Homo sapiens: one gene and its partner. The protein of the gene in region 2 interacts with the protein of the main gene of each other region in a pairwise test. Each region holds a gene or a part of one and is shown on either strand. Other genes may lie near its edges. The genes, in order: WAC and MOBP.

The links.
Region 1: the proteins of MOBP (region 2) and WAC interact in a two-hybrid assay, tested with the Homo sapiens proteins (one large-scale study listed by BioGRID).

Annotation. Positions count from the first base shown.
Region 1 is NC_000010.11:28,606,034-28,609,861, reverse strand, and holds part of WAC (WW domain-containing adapter protein with coiled-coil), read right to left. Parts: intron 1,677-3,828; coding exon 1,431-1,676; exon of another isoform or gene 1,420-1,430; intron 1-1,419.
Region 2 is NC_000003.12:39,465,984-39,470,574, reverse strand, and holds the start of MOBP (myelin-associated oligodendrocyte basic protein), read right to left. Parts: upstream 2,896-4,591; 5' UTR 2,835-2,895; intron 1-2,834. UniProt on the Homo sapiens protein: May play a role in compacting or stabilizing the myelin sheath, possibly by binding the negatively charged acidic phospholipids of the cytoplasmic membrane.

The DNA of each region.
Region 1 (3,828 bases), on a different chromosome or scaffold from region 2:
CTTCAACTATTTATTTTGGAGACAGGGTTGTGCAATCACAGCTTACCATAGCCTTCACCTTCCAGGCTTAAGTTATTCTCCCACCTCAGCCTCCCAAGTAGCTGGAACTACAGGCGTTCACCACCACACCTGGCTAAGTTTTTGTATTTTTAGTAGAGATGGGGTTCACCATGTTGCCCAGGCTGGTCTGGGCTTAAGTGGCCCACCAGCCTCAGCAAGTGCTGGAATTACAGGCATGAGCCACTGCATCTGGCCTCCTCAAACTATCTAAAAGCCCCACTTTGCCTAAATGAAACATTTACCTACCACACAAGAGAACTGCGTGGTTAGAGAATAAAATAAAAATACAAAAAAATTAAGGACAGTAAGAACAGACTAATGACCAACTAGCCTGAGATAGCTTTATTTTTAGGATAAGAACTTAACCACTTAACACTACTTTTAAGTATATTATGTGAAAATGTACATAAAAATTGATCACTTTATTTTTATTTATTTTGAGATGGGGTCTTGCTCTGTCAGCCAGGTTGGAGTGTACAGGCACCATCTCAGCTCACTGCAACCTCCGTCTCCTGGGTTCAAGCGATTCTCGTACCTCAGCCTCCCGAGTAGCTGGGATTCACAGGCATGTGCCATCACGCCTGGTTAACTTTTGTATTTTTATTAGAGATAGCGTTTCACCATCTTGGTCAGGCTGGTTTCAAACTCCTGACCTCAGGTGATCCACCCGCCTCGGCCTAAAAATTTATCATTTTCAACAGAAAATTTTGCAGTGCTTTTAGGAATTAACGTGTGAATCTGAATAGTTTCCAAATTAACACATCTACTTTTATTCATACTTTTTCAAAGTGGCTGACTAAATATTCTGAAACGTAAGTAGCATTACTGAAAAGCAAGGCTGGAATTAAATAATGCAATTCACCAGGAAAAAAATGGCAACATTTTATCTAGTACCTATCTCCTCCCTTCTCAGAATTTTTTGAAAGTATTTTAAGTAGCTACCTGAATTCCTACTTTTCTAGTAATTAGCATATTTTAAATATTCTGAGTAATTATTTATACAGGTTTTTTAGAAACATACCAGAAGTTTTAATACCGATTTCAACAAACGCTCGATTGTTTTAATGTAAAATTTCACCATACACATTATGTATATAGAATGGCTTACCTCCAGTAACTACCAGACACATAACAAGTATTGAAAAATATACACAAGATCCAAGCACCACTAACTCAATTATACTACCAATGGTCTTAAACTACAGTGGATATAAATTTCCAAACTCCAAAAACAAAAAACAAAACAAAAAAAAGTGTTCAACTATAAATTTCAAAAGAAAACAAAGACCATTCCTAAACTGGGGATTTTACTACTTACATAACTTTGCACAATGCAAATAAATTTTTAAAAAACTGTTATGAAGATTTACCTTCATTTATTTTAGATATGTCCACATTAGAATTATTAAGCTGCAGCGTGGCTTGCAAAGCAGGAAGCAATTGTCTAAGAAGATTTGGGTCCTGAAGTAAGGGAGGTATTGGCGACTGTGGAACAGGAGAAACAGGGACCGCTGAAGCAGATGTTGGAGGTGCAGATGTGGGGTTCAGTCCAGAGGCAGAAGACGTGGAAGGAGTTGTGCAAGAATGTGATACGGGTTTGTCTCCTGATGTAGATTCTAAATAAAAAGATAATCAGCCTGAAAAATTACCTGAATAGAGAAAATTGGAACAAACATCAAAGGAACACCTCTCATGTGCCAGGCACCTAACGTAAGTAATCTCATTTAACCCTTACACACTGGAGCACACAGAAGATGCTCAGTAAACATTCACATGACTAGAATAATGATTTAGACATTTCTCACCCTATTTCATAGGTAAGAAAGCTGAACAAGAAAGGTTAGATAACCTGAAGCCATAAAACCTGGTAAATCATACCCATATCTGATTTGAAAAGTACCAATCTGTCTACCACCAATGCTATCTCAAAGATAATTATTTATTAACCACACATTCAAATAAGCTTCCATTAGGATAAAAGGACAATATAATTCTACAGGATTTAATTTATATCTCATGAAATAAGGTGAAAAATGTTTATGGCCACAGTAACAACCTACCTCAATAAGACACTGGTCTTAATACAAATCAGGGTAGGTACACCAAGGTGGTTACACCCAAAATGGGCTAAAGATGTGATGAGAAGAGACTTTTATACTTAATAACTGAGTTTTGTAACTACATACTTCCCTTTTGTAATTCAATATATAAGGCAATGAGCTATTTGTTTCATTTTAAGATTATTAAAAAGGACACTTTAATATTAAAAACAACCCACCTCATAGTATTTAGAAATAAAGGATGTATAAAATACGCATGGAAAATTATTTGAAAGCTGTTGTTTCAATTATTTATATAGATTTAATGTAACTGTAATCAAAGCCCCAAGAGCACTGTTAATACTATTTGACAAGCTAGTAACATAAATCCTGAAGATTCCATAACCTGAAGAAAAAGAACACTGCCAGCAGGACATGCCCTGCCAAATATAAAAACTTACATTTAAAACAAAGCCAGTTAAAGGTAGACTGAACTTTTGTGTAGGTATTTAAGTCTTTAAAACTCTTAGAGGAAAACACAGAAAGGTATCCATAACACCAAGCAGATGTGTAAAGTTACAAAAAGCAGAACAATTATATTCAAAGTAGTGGTAATCAGACTATTTAAAGAATTTCTATACGTCAAAATAGACAAACTGCCCAATAGAAAAATGTACAGAAGACATTATTTCAAAGAAGGAACTTGAATGCCTAGGAAATTCAAGAAAAGATGCTCAACTTCATTCAGAATCAGGACAATGTAAAATAAAGCAACATAACCCTTTACACTCACCATAATGCAAAAATTTTAAAGTCAGACATACCAAATGTTGGCAAAGAGTAATGAGAACATTTACTCAACATTTCTGATGGATAATAAATTGATATAACCACACTGGAAAGTAATTTGGCATTATTTAGAAAAGTTGAAGATACGAACACTACATGACCCAGTAATTCCCCTTTAGGTACACACCCTCAGTGAAACTCAGATATATGTAAATCAGGAGAAAATTCAAAGACTATCACAACAGCACTCTGTTTGCTTTTAGTATAAAACTAGAAACAACCTATTTCTTTAAGATTTTCAAGATCATATATACAGTACTAGCAAGCTTATTGAAAACAGACTCCCCTATGAGTCTTTTTACACTACTATAATGGTCGAAAGAACTAGGGATAATAGCTCTCTAAAGTGTGGATCTCACAGCTGATTTAAGTACATTTCAAAAATGTGTTGATTAACCATGATGAACTCAGAAGGACTAAGATATTTTTATTTGCGTAAGGGTATACACTTTTAAAGGAAGGTGCTTGAATCCAGCAGACTGCCTATTATTTTCAGCTTTACTGTTCTGGATTCATAGACAAGCATAAAGAAACTCAAATAAAACGATAAATGTTTTCCTTGCGAAAATTCTGCTGTCAGATGGACGTGGTGGCTCACGCCTATAATCCCAGCATTTTGCAAGGCTTGAGCCCAGGATTTCCAAGACCGGCCTGGGCAACACGGCAAAACCCCGTCTCTACTAAAAATACAAAAAATTAGCCAGCTGTGGTGGCTTGCGCCTGTGGTCCCAGCTACTCAGGAAGCTGAGGTGGGAGAACCACCTGAGCCACGAAGTCGTGGCTGCATTAAGCCGTGATTCAGCCACTGCAATCTAGCCTAGGCAATGGGAGTGAGGCCCTGTCTAAAAAAAAAAAAAACCAAAAAACTGCTGTCAGCTAT
Region 2 (4,591 bases):
AGTAAAGTGTGTGATGTATTAGTAAAAAAGAATAATGCATCTCATCCATAAATTCAATAGGCTTATATCATACTTGAGTTCCAGGCTCTGTCATTCACTAGCTGTGTGTAATCATAGGCTAGTCTCTGGATCTCAATTTTCTTCTCTGTAAAATGTGAATGATAGTTCCTACCTCACAGATTTTGTTGAGAAGACTTGTTTTACGAATGTCTGGTACAGCTGAAGGATCTCAGAGTTTTGATTCCTGTCCCCATAAGGGGACAGTTTTTAACAGTTTTGGCCAGTTATTTTGCTAGTTGTCCCTCAATATGGGTGTGGTCTGTAGTTCAGTGCTGAGGTGTGAGTACTAGAACATGTAGGAAACACTTTTGATCAGGAGACTTTTTGCAGCGTTGCCAGAGGTCCGCCTCCTCCACTAGGGCAGACGTCCCCGTCAACCCGCGAAAGGATGCCAGCCAGCCTGGAGTGGCTACCCAGGGAAACTCTATTGAGTTGTATCTGCTTTCAGCAGATGGTTGCACTTAGAAAGGAATTATTATATTTATGAAACTAATACTCAGAGAGCAGTAGACATGACTCCAACACACACAAAGAATCTAAATTGAATACCTCACTTTAAGCCTATAAGATCACATACAGGTCACTGTAATTGCTATTTATAATCCAAGGGCAATACTTACACACTTTTGGTGATTCCTTGGAAATTATCTGTAAAAGCTCTAGATTTTTAATTTTTGGCAATTTGGTGTACAAAGATTTTAGGTACTCATTTAAAATCCTAGTAACTATTAGGTAAACAAGATCTTGAATTTAAAAATTGTATACTCAGATTCAAGTATGAATTTGGATATGTATGATCTAAAATGCAAGCCTATTCCTTTGAAAACTGCATAATTGTGAGAAAACTGCAGACCAAACCCATATTGAGGGACATTTAGCAAAATAACTGGCTTATACTCTCCAAAACTGTCTAGGTCAAAGCTGCCTCAGGTGTGGTTCCAGACTAAAGGAGGCTGAGGGGACAGGACAACAAAAGGTCATGCATGGTTCTCAATTCGCTCCTTGGACAATTGATGAAATCTAGATATCTCTAGATTTAAAAACAGTATTTTCTCAATAGTAATTTTCTAATTTTAATTAATTCCAATTAAAATAAATTTTAATTAATTCCAATTAAAATAAATTTTAATTAATTCCAATTAAAATAAATTTTAGTTAATTCCAATTAAAATAAATTTTAATTAAAATTAATTAGATATAAATATGTGTATATATACATATACACACATATGTATATATATCTATACATATACACACACATATATGTATATATACACACACATATGTATATATGTATATACACACACATGTATATATGTATATACACACACACACATGTATATATGTATACACACACACATATGTATATATGTATATACACACACATATGTATATATGTATATATACACACACATATGTATATATGTATATACACACACACATATGTATATATGTATATACACACACATATGTATATATGTATATATATACACACATATGTATATATGTATATATACACACACATATGTATATATGTATATATACACACACATATGTATATATGTATATATACACACAATGTATATATGTATATATACACACTCATATGTATATATGTATATATACACACACATATGTATATATGTATATATACACACTCATGTATATATGTATATATACACACATATGTAATATGTATACACACACATATGTATATATACACACACATGTATATATGTATATATACACACACATGTATATATGTATATATACACACACATATGTATATATGTATATACACACACATATGTATATATGTATATACACACACATATTTTTATATATACACCCATATGTATGGATACAGAGAGAGAGAAAGAGAATGATAAAGGAAATATGGTAAAACAGGAACATCTGGGTAATTTGGCTGCACCTGAAATTTTCTGTATTGTTTGCAACTTTTCTGAAAATCTGAAACAATTTTTAAAACTCACTCACCAACAAGTTTCCTGTCATTCTAAATACGAAACAGCATATCCGCACACCTGGCAGCAGCCTGCTCTCTGCCTCCCTGATTTATTCACAAAGAATTAAAAAGTCCTTTCCCCGTTTTCCTGCTAGTACTGTAGGCCAAGTTCATTACTCGCCTCCCTGACACATAATATTTTTTCCTTTCTCTGTCATCCATAGAACTGAAAACTCCCTGTTGTTTCTAAGATATTCTGTATCAGACAAAGCATTAGCGCCTTTCCATTTAAGGTTGTTGGTCTACAGGGGGCAGAATTCCGAAAAGATTTGGGCTTTGTTGTTCCATTAAGATCCCCCACACATAAATCCAACTGTATGAGGAAAAAAATTGTTCCTAGATAAGAAGAAAAACTCATTTTTAAATCATGACAAATAATAAAAGAAGAAATAAATTAAAAAAAAAAAAGCAGCAGCAGCAGCAGCATGTACTACCATCCATCTAGCTCCAGGAACATGGGGCTTTGAATCTGAGGAAATCTGAGTAAGGGCTCAGAGCCTCTCTCTGGGCTCAGACGATTTCCAAACATTAGCAGGAACATTCCAGGAGGCCCCCTGCCCACATCAGAATAAACATGGTGTCCTCTGTTCTTGTTTTCTCCATCCTTGTATGTCCTCTCAATCTTGACTATTCTTACAGAAAGTTTTCCCTGGGATATAATGAAATGGCCCATACAAAAAAGTACACTTGTCATTTAAAGATGAAAGTATAAAATGAAGTAAAATAAAAACCAATGGAATCCTCTTACCTTCAAATAGCAGTTGTTGTGTGAAACAGATTCTGCGTCTATACCAGGTCCCTGAGGGTTTGAGCCTACTTCAATGCATGCAGAATATATAGGGAGAGGTTATAGATCTGGGTTTTTCATTACACAAGGTGTTTTTGATGAGTCCTCAGCGAAGATCCACTTAAAAACAAAAGCTACACAAAGACTACAAAAAGGCCACACAAAGTTTAAACAAAAGGCTAAAGAAAGACCAAACAAAAGCCAAAGAAAGTTTAAACAAAGAGCGAAACAAAGATAAAACAAAGGCCAAAGACAAAAACAAAGAGCAAAAGAAAATCTAAACAAAAGCTAAGCTAAGCTATAACCATATCTCACACACACATACACACGCACCCCACATTCACTCTACAGCCCCCCAACATTCACATATTCCAGCCTCCCACCTCCCACATAATCAACACCCCATGTGAAAACTCACCCCTCAAGGTTCATTCCACATAAACTCCAGTTAAGTTCCATGCCAGGTCCAACCACACCACACACCAGCTCACCCTACCAAACCACACACCCTTCCACCAACATGCTATGCCACCACAGCGCCATCCCACCCAGCACCCCATACCTCACTCACACATCACAAGCCATACCCATAAGCCATGAACACAGCTGCAATCACATTGACAAATTCCAGGAGTTTTTATACTCCATGTAGATTAAATACCGATCACACTTCCTTCCCTAAAACACTCATGTATACCCATAGATACACCCCAAAACTAAAATTCACACAAGCATGCCCTTGTACACTTGATTAGCAAGAGTCTAATCCAGTCTAGTTACAACTAACATTGAATTTGGAAGTTTCCATGACAATTACCCTATGCATTCACATTTATGAAAACACGTATAAATCATCTCTTATGTTGAACAGTTTCTGCGAATGATAAATCTCATTCAATTAACATTTTATTGGCTTCAGTCTTAGACACCGGCATTTTCTTATAATTTTCCTAACCTAAAATGTGGGGCCACACCTTTCTGTGCTCTGTTAAATGCCATGGGTCCTGTAACTCTGCTTCTGCTATTTATTTTATATATGTAGAACTAGAACTACCCACTAATGATTTGAAAGATGAAAGCTTACTTCTGAAACCAATCCAACCAACAGCAGCCTTGCCTTTTGAATTCCCAGCGCCCCCTCCATGACAGTGTAATATAAATGTCAACATTACCACCAAGTTTCTCTTTAGGCTCTTGTCTCAGTAAAGAATCAGCCAGGGAACCTTGAAAAGGTAATCCAGTGAGACTACAAACATTGACTATAAATCTCTTTGTACACTAACATTTTTGTTTTTGTTTTTGTTTTGAGACGGAATCTGGTTCTGTCCCCCAGGCTGGAGTGCAGTGGCGCTCTCACCTCACTGCAACCTCCACCTCCTGGGTTCAAGCTATTCTTCTGCCTCGGCCTCCCGAGCAGCTGGGACTACAGGCACCCACCATCATGCCTGAATAATTTTTGTATTTTTTAGTAGAGACAGGGTTTCGCCATGTTGCCCAGGCTGGTCTCAAACTCCTGACCACAGGTGATCCGCCTGCCTTGGCTTCCCAAAGTGCTGGGATTACATGCTTGAGCCACCGTGCCTGGCCTCTTCGTATACTAACTTTATAGTTAATTAAACATTCTCTGAGTAATGAGTTATAGACGTATGCTGGTTGATTCACTCCCACTGTGATGCCAGTATTTTGCTTGTGTTGTACTGACTGTGACTGAGGGCTGG